Linked DNA regions of Homo sapiens: region 2 is linked to region 1. The links come from fine-mapping of genetic effects on gene expression. Tissue or cell type: whole blood. Region 1 holds a variant in brackets; the other region holds the start of a gene. All regions are shown on one strand. Distances are from middle to middle.

Region 1 (2,680 bases):
TGAAGCAGGGAAGCCATATAAAAAATATGAACATACACAGAAAGGCCCAATGGTTGGCACTTAAATACTCTCTTCACTAGGGAAAGGGAGCTGGGGGGCTGTAAATGAATGGACCCAAATACCTGACAGTGGTTTGCAAATGGTTCTCTTTGGATGCTGAATGGGACTGAAGGACAAACAATAGCTTGTGGACAAGTCATGGAAGGTGAGGGGTGGTACTGCACTGTGAACTAAGGTTGTCTTATTATGCAGATACAGTCTCCCAGGTTATCTCTTGGAACCTCCCTCAGAAGAAAAGACGAAAAGTCTGTCTGGGTATGGTATCCTGGCTGTAGCTTCTTTTTCAGTCTTTTCTTGGGTGATTAATCATTCCTGGTTATTTAATGAGATTCATAGGGAGGGGGCTTTAAGACGGCTGCATTTATTTTAGAAGTGTTCTTAATCAGGTAAGGGAACTTCCAGAGAAAGAGGTCCTCCTGGTGCTTTAGAAAAGAAAGGGTTGAAAAGAAAAGAAAAAGGTCAGAGAGACAGCATGCTCCTGGTGCTTTAGAAAAGGGTCAAAAAAAAAAAAAAAAGAAAAGAAAAGAAAGGGTCACAGACACACGATGGCGGGGGAAAGCCAGAGAGAAACCTTGAAGCTGCTGCTTTAGTTCAGCTCGTCAAGTGCCACATTTTGGGCATTATTTTATGAGCCCCAACACTTGTGTGACAAAGAATTCCAAGCTGGAAGTCAACAAACTAAATTCCCCTGTGAGCTCTGTGGCCTCAGCAAGCTGCCTAAGATTTGGGTCCTCCTCTGTAAAACAGACGTTTCCCCTACCCTTCTCGTGGCTCCTTCTGGCTCTCATGTTCCGGAGTCTATAACCTTGCATTGCTTCTGTGCAGACAGAGAAAAGCAGCCACACTTTCCCCAAAGAGTAGCCACAACTACGTAAAAATGAGAAGACATGAAGACAGTTCAAAAGAAAGGAAGGTCACCAGGCTCACCCACAAGCCTCAGAGCAGGGCTTCGTTTTGATTCTTTGGGACTCAGCAGCTCTCAGTGATCTCATCTTTCTTCACAGCTCCAGCTCTTCCCTCCTCTTTTCTGATGGCCTAGATTATATTTTCAGCAGATCGAGCCAGATCCTCATGACCACTTCCCGGAGGTCTGCTCAGCCTTCGGCTGTCACTTCAGGCAGGCAGTGAGAACCGCAGTGTAACCCTTTCGTCTCTCTCACAACAGCATGTCTGACTGCAAAGCCCACCCCGGTCCCAGGACTCTGGTTACACAACCCTTTTAGGCAGGCCCAGGAGATTCCCAGGTAGCACCCTTCCCCTCACCTCCAAATACCCACTTACCCTTCTAACCACACCTCCTCTCTGCATACCATCACCGTTCCCATACTAGCAGTGATGGGGGACTCTCCAGCCACCCTCCCAGGCACGGCATCATCTCTTCACTTTG[C/T]GGTGTGGTGGTGCCGCTCTGACACCTGTCGTGAGGCAGCAAGGATTCAAGAGAAGGGAGAAGTTGGCCAGGTGCAGTGGCTCACACCTGTAATCCCAGCACTCTGAGAGGCTTAGGTGGGAGGGTCTCTTGAGGCCAGGAGTTTGAGACCTCATCTCTACTAAAATAAAGAAAATTAGCCAGGTGTGGTGGCACATCTATAGTACCAGCTCCTCGGGAGGCTGAGGTGTGAAGAATTGCTTGATCCCAGGTCGAGGCTGCAGTGACCCCTGATCTCACACTGCACTCCAGCCTGGGTGACAGAGCAAGATCCTGTCTCAAAAAAAAAAAAAACACTAAAAAAGAAAACTCTCAAGAGGAGTGAATCCCTCCATGGCGCCGACTCCTGAGGCCACTCAGCCCTGATTGTCCAGCTATGGGAATTCCATGCTGGCAGCTGTAGCCGCCACCACCAGAGTCCTGTAGATTACCCCTTCTTGTTCTCTGCTCCAAGCAGACTCAACAGCTCCTTTTAATTTCCTGTAGCACAGCAAAGAGTAAGTCTGGATCATTTAACAAGGATTCTTCAGTGGCTCAGGACAGTGAAAGAAAAAGTAACCTTAAATCAGATTAACAAGGTTCACCAGGTCCAGGCCACTTCCTTCCAGCAGAAGGAATGGAAGAGCGGTTGCCCTCTCTTCCGCAGGGCCTGTGAGCTCCAGTCCCTCGCCCTTCTCATCAGGTCCTTTAGATTCTCCCAGGGCTTTCTGAGCCGCTGCTGTCACCACCTTTTCCTGGCCAGTTCACCTCTGCCTTACCTGGAGCTGCAGACCTAGTGCTGCGGCCAGTTGTTTAGCCTATTCCTAATGCTGCCCTCAGCCTCAAAGCCCCTCTCCCTCACAGGGTGTGGCAAACACCATCCCTGGAGGAGGGGCTGAGAAATACCAGTGCCAGACTAAAATATGATACAATCACATGGGCAGAAGAAATTAGGCCACTTACAGAGCCCAGGCAATGGAAAACAGTAGCAATGGCACACTGCTAAAACCAGGGAGGCCATTCAAAGAATGAGTCCTCCCCAGGGGAGCTCAGTGAGAGCGGCCACTTGGATGGAGCAGCAGCTGCCGCAGCTTAAAGCTCACACGGTCAGGCTCTCCATATTCTCCTGTGGCCTTAAGAGAAAGAACCAAAGTGTGCAGAAGCTGGAAGCGTGGGGACGCACCAAGGAACAAGACGCTTGATAAAACCTAAAGA
Region 2 (2,680 bases), 190 kb before region 1:
TAATTTCGAAGGAGACTGTCCTTAAAATCACAGTATGTCAGTGGCCAGCTTTAGCTTCTCAATGCTAGCCTTGGGTCACAGGGTTTTCTAGTGTGAAAATTATCCAAACGAGTAATTTCTTATAGCAACAGATTGTCAAAAAAAAGACACTGATGCGCAAGTCATGTGGGAGTCTGAAACATTGGTTCTGCTCTCCTCTGCCTCCAGGGGGTCTTGGCCAAGTCACTCAACCTCTCTGGGTTCCAGGCTCTTAACTGTAAAAGAAGGTGATTGGGGCTACACAGTAGAGTCCCTTTGGCTCTAACCTTCTGAGGCTTCATGGTTTCTTCCGTTAACAGTAGCTGAATCCAGGAAGAGGAGGTGACCCAGGCGGGTGCTGGACCAAGAAGGATTCTGTGTTAAGATGTAGAACTGCCAGTTCTGTCTATGCTTGTTTTACTTGATAAATGGAATGGAGTAGACGTTTCTAGGGCTCTTGTTTTTAAAAATCTTTTAAAGTGGCTGGATTGCTGGTCACTTCCTATCTCTGGGCCACAGTGCATTCACCTGTATACAAGGTGGAAGAAAGGATGGAACCCGGGATTCCCAAGGTCTCTTCCGGCTCTCAAGTGCAAAGTTCTGTGTCTTCAAAGCAGTTTATTGCTAAGCCAGAGAGCTAAGAGAGCTTAGCCTTGTACTAAGTGTAGGTCATGGGGTCAATCTCAGGAACACCCTTCGCTTTATTTCTTCTCATAACCATTGCGTGTGTTGGGGAGGGCTGGGGCAGTCTGCCTCCCCCAACATAGGCACTAACATATGCCATCGACGGGCAAGAATGAAATCCTGGCTCTACCTCTCACGAATCAGGTGGATCTCAAGAGAGACTGAATAAGTGTGAGCCTCCGTTTCCCCATCTGTGAAACAGGGAGAGTTACCGGCAAAGGTGTAAATGTCAAGAGTTGAGCAACAATGCCTAGTCCTTACCAGGTTTTCAAGCGCTATTTTCCATAACCGTTAGGAGCGCTAAGGAAAGATAAACTGCGGTGTCCTAAGTACGCTGAGGCTCGCTGACGACCAGACGAGCACCACGCCACAGTACTGGGTGCCTCCGTGCTCCCACGTCCACATTTCCCGTGCACAGCACACTGGCGTGGCCGCGCGGGTCCACGGAACAGCCCAGCGCTCGGACGCCAATCATCCCGCATCAGGCTCCGCCCCCCAGCGCTCAACGCGCCCCTCGGCGTGCGCGCTCCCGCCGCCAGCGGGCGCGCTCCGGGCGCAGGCGGTGACGTGTTGCCGGCGGGGGCCGGGCGGGGGTGCGGCTCCAGGAAAGGAGCGCGGCCTCCAGGAAGCCGGCTGGCCGTGATGCTGCCCACTGGTGGTCCCCCGCTCCCGGGGTCCCCGGCCGGCCAAGCAGGTGAGGTTGCCTTCCGAGCGTGGGTGAGGGGAGGGCGGGCGGCCGAAGGGGCCGGCGAGTGGGTTGGAGTGCGGGGGCCGGCGGCGCGGCGAGCGGGCCGCGGACGAGCCTCTCTGCCCCAGGCCCCCACAGCCGCCTGCTTAGCCCCGCGGACCGGTTCCCGCCTCCCCTGCCGCGCGGCCACATCCGAGCGCCCCGGGACCAACCCCTGTGAGCCCTGGCGGCCGGCGCGCTCCCCCAGCCCCTGGCAGGGGACACCTGGCGGTCGCGCGCCTCGGGTGACCGCTCGGGATCCCCCCCTCGAATGGGCGGAGCTTGACCGGGCAGCAGGGATGCTGCACCCGGGACCCAGCCGGCCCTGCCTGCCGCTTTAAATGATGACATTCGCTCGTCTTGTCGTTTTCGCTTTGCTTTGCTTTTGCCAGATTTCATGTTAGATTTCTTCTTGGAAAAATGGAGCTTATTGGGCAGTAAAGTGATGATGCACAGCATTGTTTCTGAACTTGAGTAATGCGCGGACCCCTTTTAAAGGAACAATTCTCTCATGGTCTAGAATGTGTCCCAGAACCCTTAGGGTGCTTCAGACCCCAGTTAGATGAACCCTAGTGCAGAGCGTTTTCAGAGAACACTTATCACGAAGGAAACTAAAGAGATCCTTTATGATTCAGGAACTTTCAGGCTAGAAGGTAAACTAGAGGTAATGGAAGAATTCTAAATTAGACACTCAAAGCCCAGGCTAATTTCGCATTGCAGTCTTTGTTGTCTCCTTTTTGTGATGAAAATACCAAATTATCCAGCTTTAGAGAGGCCTAAAAGAGTTATATTATTTGTGTTACCATATATTTGATGTTTTTGTATCAGGTTTGTTAATTCTGTTTGACATAGTAGAATTATAAAATGGAACACTAATTCGTGTAGTTGAATCGTTTATTTCTCTGTTTACCTTAACAGAGGTCTTGTAGTTGTTGCATGTTGAATCTATGGCTTATATTCTTCTACCTCTAATAGGAAATGTGTGACTGAGGCCCTTGAGGATATAGTCTAGGAAGGAGACAAAAATGAACATTTATCTAAGGATTTATATTCTCTACGTATTTACTCAGCATGTTTATTTAAAATAGACTACTCATGAATAAAGAGACGATTCCAATTGTAAGAAAACATCAGGATGTGTAACAGGTTAAATCTTGACAAAGAAACATGTTGACTTGTGCCTTGAAAGAAGTGTAGTCTTGAGAGGAGGACACGGTGGTGGCTCGGAGGAAGTGCTGTTAGTAAATGCCT

Evidence for each region. PIP is the estimated chance that this variant, and not a neighbour inherited with it, causes the effect.
Region 2: ENTPD4 starts here. The variant in region 1 is fine-mapped to the expression of ENTPD4 in whole blood (TOPMed, PIP 0.98).

Annotation. Positions count from the first base shown.
Region 1 is chr8:23,262,011-23,264,690 of GRCh38, reverse strand. No RefSeq gene overlaps it. Among named protein-coding and RNA genes, the nearest start is that of CHMP7, 20 kb to the right of the region's middle. The variant C/T (reference allele first, on the strand shown) is at 1,448.
Region 2 is chr8:23,456,273-23,458,952 of GRCh38, reverse strand. ENTPD4 (ectonucleoside triphosphate diphosphohydrolase 4) reads left to right here and starts at 1,306. Exons shown (of 13, transcript NM_004901.5): 1 at 1,306-1,396. It overlaps ENTPD4-DT (ENTPD4 divergent transcript), which reads right to left and starts at 1,182. Exons shown (of 5, transcript NR_186533.1): 1 at 964-1,182. RefSeq lists a silencer at 1,093-1,772.